Homo sapiens: one gene and its partner. The protein of the gene in region 2 purifies or fractionates together with the protein of the main gene of each other region. This does not show direct contact. Each region holds a gene or a part of one and is shown on either strand. Other genes may lie near its edges. The genes, in order: MME and CMSS1.

Region 1 (3,213 bases), about 55 Mb from region 2:
AGATTTATATAAATGTAAAAATAATAATTTTTATATTTAATTATTAACTACATTTATGAGTAACTATTATTATAGGTAATCAATGAATATTGAAGTTTCAGCTTAAAATAAACAGTTGTGAACCAAGATCTATAAAGCGATATACAGATGAAAATTTGAGACTATTTAAACTTATAAATCATATTGATGAAAAGATTTAAGCACAAACTTTAGGGTAAAAATTGCCATTGGACAGTTGTCTAGAGATATATATACTTGTGGTTTTCAAATTGGACTTTCAAAATTAAATCTGTCCCTGAGAGTGTCTCTGATAAAAGGGCAAATCTGCACCTATGTAGCTCTGCATCTCCTGTCTTTTCAGGTTTGTCATCAGATGGAAATATTTTGATAATAAATTGAAATTGTGAACTCATTGCTCCCTAAGACTGTGACAACTGTCTAACTTTAGAAGTGCATTTCTGAATAGAAATGGGAGGCCTCTGATGGACCTTCTAGAATTATAAGTCACAAAGAGTTCTGGAAAAGAACTGTTTACTGCTTGATAGGAATTCATCTTTTGAGGCTTCTGTTCCTCTCTTTTCCTGTTGTATTGACTATTTTCGTTCATTACTTGATTAAGATTTTACAAAAGAGGAGCACTTCCAAAATTCTTATTTTTCCTAACAAAAGATGAAAGCAGGGAATTTCTATCTAAATGATGAGTATTAGTTCCCTGTCTCTTGAAAAATGCCCATTTGCCTTTAAAAAAAAAAGTTACAGAAATACTATAACATATGTACATAAATTGCATAAAGCATAAGTATACAGTTCAATAAACTTAACTTTAACTGAACAATGGCCCTGTAGCCAGCACCTGTAAGAAACAGAGCAGTACCAGCGCTCTAAAAGCACCTCCTTGTCACTTTATTACTCCCAGAACAACAACTATCCTGACTTCTAATATCATTCACTAGCTTTGCCTGGTTTTGTCTTTTATGCAGATAGAATCAATCAGTATGTATTCTTTTGTGCCTGGCTTCTTTCTCTCAGCCTTACATTTGTGAGATTCCTCTGTATTGTGCTGATTGTGGATCTTTTCATTCTCATTGCAGAATAATGTTCTATTGTGGGACTTATTACAATTTGTTCATCCTATTGTTGATGGGCACTTGAGAACTTTCCATTTTGGCGCTATTACAAATAGTGCAACTATGAATGTACTGCATGTTACCATCTTACTTGAGCCTTTAATGGACTTATTTCTTCAAATCCTTCCAAAAATTATTATAAGCATTGAAATTATAGTTTCAAGCCAACTGTGGATACCCTTACCCTTTCCTCCTTTATCACAACCACCGTTACAAGTATACTTATATTTCCCTAAAATACATTTAAAACTTACCTAAGTGACATTTGTAGTTGGAGTAATAGGAGCTTCCAGCTCTAATAAAACAGCTGTCTCTAACTTATTTTATTTCCATCATGTCAGAGCAGGTGAAGAGCCAGAAGTGAAGAGTGACTAGTACAAATTATAAAAAGCCACTAGACTCTTCACTGTTAGCTTTTTAAAACATTAGGCTCCCATCCCTATGGAGGAACAACTCTCCAGTGCCTGGATCCCCTCTGTCTACAAATATAAGATTTTCTGGGCCTAAAGGATAGATCAAAGTCAAAAATAGCAATGCCTCCCTATCCCTCACACATCCAGACATCATGAATTTTACATGGTACTCTTGTTGAGTTCTGTAGAGCCTTCTGATGTCTCTAAAGCACTACCGATTCTTTGGAGTTGTCACATCAGATAAGACATATCTCTAATTCCATCCATAAATCCAGTTCTACTATGGCTGAGTTCTGGTCAAAGAAAGAAAGTTTAGAAGCTGAGACACAAAGGGTTGGGAGCTGATGAAACTCACAAATGATGGTAGGAAGAAGCTCTCGACAATACCCGTTGGCAAGGAGTCTGCCTCCATGCTGCAGTGTTCGAGTGGATTGTAGGTGCAAGATGGAAAGGATTGTAGGTGCAAGCTGTCCAGAGAAAAGAGTCCTTGTTCCAGCCCTATTCTGCCACTCCTGACAGGGTGACCTTGGGTATTTGCAATATTCCTTTGGGCCTCTGCTTCTCTCACCTAAAAAAAGAGAATTAGATTATATTGGTGGTTCTCAGCAAGAGAAGGAGTATGTGTCCAATGCTGCCTTCCCATGAATCTGTCTCCCAGTTATGAATCAGTGGGCAGGATAAACTGAAAACTCCCATTTACGTGTCTGAATCGAGTGAGACAAAATTTTAGTCCAAATAACAAGTACCAAAGTTTTATCAAGTTTGGGTCTGTGCTGCTGTTACTGTTAACCATTTAAGTGGGGCAAAACCTTGCTAATTTTCTCAAAAGCATTTATCATTCTTGTTGCCACAGCTGGAGCTCTCAAACTAAAAGACATTTGTTATTTTGGAAAGAAGAAAGACTCTATTCTCAAAGTTTCCTAATCAGAAATTTTTATCAGTTTCCAGTCTCAAAAATACAAAATAAAAACAAACGTTTTTAATACTATTGCTTTTATGCCTAGTCAACTCTGTTCCAAACTGCCAACTCCTGTGTAAATCTCTACCCCATTTATTTCTTGAAAAATATTAAGATTAAATGGAGCTTTTATCTCTGTAGTCTTGCATTTCCCACTAGCTTCAAATTGAATTTTTAGAAAATGAATGATATAAGCTTTGTATCCATTATGTCCTTGTTTTCCCCACCCTTTTTCAAAGATCACCATGACTTTCTGATTGGATTTTTTTTCAAAAGTGAAATGGCCATCAAATGTTATATGGAGTCACTAGCATAATCAGATGACTTAGGCAAAAGCCAAAAGTAAGTGTCTTTATCCACAGTCTCTAGTCTGAAGAAGTTGACCATTTGGTTGGTCAAGTGGACAGAGGAGTCACATCTGACTGGTGGTCAAACTGGCACATGTTTATCGCATTCTAATCTTTTATCTAACAATGGTTTCTTAATTTCTGCTTCTTTGTATTTTGCATTTCCTCTAAAACAGTGAGAAACACTACTTTCACTTTCAACCTCATAGACAAAATGTTGTGCTTCTATTTTGCTTGACAAAACAGATCTTCTCAGTTGTACAAAGGAAGTCTGGCAGAAAAATAATCATTGGCTCTTGCCAGAAATAATGATGAGTTTCCAACTTGGGGAAGTATAGAAAGACTGGAAAGACTAATATTTATGATAA
Region 2 (3,827 bases):
CAATAGTCTGGATAGCTTTGCTTTTTCTCTTCCTCTCTTTCTTTTAAATACAGAGAAGAGTAATCCTGTTGCATGGGGTGGGGGCTGGGGAAGTCTGGTGACACACAAAAAAATCTGGATTCCAGGAGGGGCTGGTGGTGAATCTTTAGCTAAAAGCTGTTAGGGAGGCAGGAACCAACCTGAGAGTCCATCCTTAGCTTCTGATACCCAGCCAATTACTCCCAAATCTGTGTCTCATAGAAGGCCTTGGTGCCTCTCATCTGTTCCTTAACTTTCAAATGCCATAGGATGTCCACAAGACAAAAATCCAAACTCCTCAGCTTACTGTTCAAGGACTTTCCTCAAATTTCTTTCCAGTTACATCAGCTGCTACTAGAGCCCACGAAGTTTCCAAGCAAGAAAGTTGGTCTCTTTAATAAATAACTAATATTTGTTAAGTGTTTAGGGTGTGACACTTACTGTGCTGAGCTCTTTATTGGCATTTTGTTTTTATAACAAACCTCTAAGTAGCTACTATTACTATCCCTGTTGTTCGCACAAAGAAACAGGCTGAGAAGGGTTAAGTAACTTGCCAAGGTCACAGAGCTGGTAAGTTGCTAGACCTGGGATTTGAATCTGGAGGTCTGAGTCCATCACAGGGGCTCTTAACTGCAACATTGTTTTACCTCCTCATCAATTCCTTGTGATATACCATGTGCATGTGCCTGCTTTCTGAGAATCTCACTGGGCTGTTCTCCCATTCATGAATGCTTCCTCTGACCCTCCCGGCCTATTTCAATCCTCCCCACACTTCAAAGATCAGTTAAAGACCCTGCCCTGCAGATTCAGGCCAGCATAACTATCTCTTTCTCATTTCAACTCTTGTAGGACTTAGAAGTGCTCATTTGGCTCTTGGCATTTACTGCCTCATGCTATCGATCTCAGTCTATGTACACTTAGTTCTTCAGCTGGATCAGGAGCTCCTTGAGGGGAAAAGGCTCTAGAACCAGGAGAGCCTAGACTGACAGACCTTGGGGAGGGTGACTTAACCCTCTGAGCTTCAGTTCTCTCTCATAAAAAATAAAAAGGCTAGCCTGTAAGGATGCTGTGAGTGCTAAATGAGGTAACATATGTAAGGGTGTCAAGCGTAGCGCTGCGTACAAGTAGGAACTCGAAAGTGTTGTTTCCCTTCCTTGTCAGGGGCAGCCAAATTTGTTAGTTGTTGGTATTTGTACAAAACTCTGCATATAGTGGGTTCAACTAACCCTGGATGATTTTCATCTGGAGAGAAACAACAGTAGTTTTAGCTTTTGTTGCTCCCTGGCAAATGACCATCTCTATAATGAGTTACTACACTGATGAACACATTACTTTTAGATATATAAAATAATCTGAGAATAGCTCCAGACAGTTATTTAAAAAAAAAGCTCTATTATATAATACATAAGTAATTTGGAAATAAGTATTGAAAAGAAATCATTCAATCTGCCTGGTAGGTAGAAGAGGTAATAAGATAATTGGCAGGTTAGCAGGTTCTTAGGCTACTGGCTTTGAGAAAGTTGGCAAACTATAAAAACCCACCAGTGGATGTTGTCTAGAATACTTTCTGTAAAGCACTAAAAGAGAAACACATTTGGGAAGAACTATTATGGAATGCCTGCATTACATTCATGGAAACTACGTTTTTTGTTTTAGTATGTTTTATATACCAGCCCTCAAAATGGGAGTCTCCCCAAGACTCAGTGGAGTGACAGGGAACTGCTCAACTCAAGCAGTGGCTGCACACTGGTGGAATGAAGGCTATGTGGAACCACTAACCTGCTTATAGCAGCTGGAATTTGACTCTGTTTAGGTGGGCACACGTACTTCAGTTTGCCACAGTCCTTATCATTCCCTATTGTGCTATACTTGCTGGTTGGTTTCAGAGATTAAAGGCTGAGTTTCCAATTCCTGAATTAACACAGAGGTCTGGTTTTTGTATATCCTGAATTTAGTTTCTGAGACTCACATGTAGGTAAGGCAAACTCCCAGCCCTGGGCAAGAGTATCACTGCCCTCTTGTCATACCTTGTTTAACAAGTTCTTTAATTCTCCCCGGAGTTCCTACACCCAGGTGCACCACACGCTTCTCCAGCAACTTTACCTGCGCCTGGACCTGTTCCAAGATGAAAGAGAAGAAAGAAAAGGAAGTCATTAAGAAAGTGCTATCTTACACCAATTTAGAACATTTTATCTCAAAGTTAAGAAAGTGAAATACAAATGGAGCTACCCTTGTGTAGGGTCGACTTCCAGGGCAGAGATGAGCATATCCCTAGAAAACTGGTAATCTTCAAGGAATCAAAGGGTCAAGCCTCAGGTTCTATACAGGGACAGAGCATGGCAGTAGCGACTGCCATACTGGGGAGGTAGGTATGCAGAAGCATAGAATTTAAAAAACCAGAAAAGTTGTTAAATGTTACATAAGGAAGGAACTCAATAAAATATGTGCTAAGGAGATTAGGAGAAGAGGTTGAAAGGAAAAAAGCTGAGGTCTGGGAGAGGCCTTTAGGGATCACACAGGCCCTTGCTTACCTTTATGTGCTTTGCAAATAATTTTATAACTTTGCCGTCTCCTCTGAATGCTGTCATCGACCTAATGAAAAGAAGCAGGTGAATGCTTAAGAAAACCAACTCATTCTAGGCCACGATGACTACTTAAGTATTATGTCTTGCTTTATTCAAAGGATGTGTGCATACGTGTGTATATATGTGCATATGTACATACAAATTCTGAGATTTGCAGGTTAGCCAATCTTTGCAATGAGAGTGGGGTGGCCTTTTATTCAGGCACATATCTGGGTTGGCTTTACACTGCCATACACAAGGTCAACCTTACTTAGGCTTCCTTGATTACTGAAACACATGACCTGCCTTTCATTTGTAATACAGAATTCCTGTATTTCAGGTCCCTGGCAGAAAATTCATCTTCCAACTATGCAGTGCAGTTCTCATACAAAATTTGGTTGCAAAAGATATCTTGGAGCGGTGATGTCAGCTCGTTCTCTGTGGAGCCAAGGGCATCTACAAAGGTCTGCCTGTGGTGGCCATGAGGGAAGCCAGGAGATGAGCTTGAAAGGGGGAAGAGGGGGGGCTTCTATCCTTCTATCACAGCTGTCCTTTCTTATCTACTTTGTAGACTAAATTCCTCTATAAAATTTTATAGGTGGAAATGAAGCTTCAGCCAAAAAGCAGGAAAAGAAGGAAGGAAGGAAGGGAAAGAGGAAGCAAAGAAGGAAGGAAAAAAAGTAAGAAGAAACCACTGACACAAAGGACTGGCTGAATTAAAGCTATGAGGGCAGGGGGTTATTGTAAATGAGGTGATCTGGGAAGCAGGGGTGAAGACTGAGGGGCACTTGAGAGTGATGCCCCCCGTAAAGGGGTCAACTAGTGCTCAGCTTTGCCAGTTATGATGATGTGAGACTATGGGCCTAAGACTCTCTGATTTTTAGAGAAGCCAGAAATCTAGATTTTTATATGTGCAATCTGATTTTAAATATGGGCAAGTCACTCACAAATTTTTTAGGTGCCAAACACTTGTAGGGTAAACTTAGCCTTTGAGTTGTCACTTTACAGTCTCTGGCTTACACCAGTAGGACAGGCAGTCCATTTAGTTTCTAGGTAGTCAAGAAGCTAGATCTATCTACAACAATCCAGACCACCAGCTCTGAGGGCTGAGACGGCGCTGGTGCACCTGCCGTGCCTGCCTTTCTACCTCTACTTTGGCATCAGGTCCTCAGCTGGCACCAACAGCTGCTCTATAAACAGCCACATAACATTATCTGTCCAGGGTTTTTGTTGTACAGATGATAC

What was found.
Region 1: the proteins of CMSS1 (region 2) and MME purify together in Homo sapiens (co-immunoprecipitation; one study listed by IntAct). This does not show direct contact.

What each region holds. Positions count from the first base shown.
Region 1 is NC_000003.12:155,181,177-155,184,389, forward strand, and holds the end of MME (neprilysin), read left to right. Parts: 3' UTR 1-2,528; downstream 2,529-3,213. UniProt on the Homo sapiens protein: Thermolysin-like specificity, but is almost confined on acting on polypeptides of up to 30 amino acids. Biologically important in the destruction of opioid peptides such as Met- and Leu-enkephalins by cleavage of a Gly-Phe bond.
Region 2 is NC_000003.12:100,170,622-100,174,448, reverse strand, and holds part of CMSS1 (protein CMSS1), read right to left. Parts: intron 2,611-3,827; coding exon 2,550-2,610; intron 2,134-2,549; coding exon 2,046-2,133; intron 1-2,045.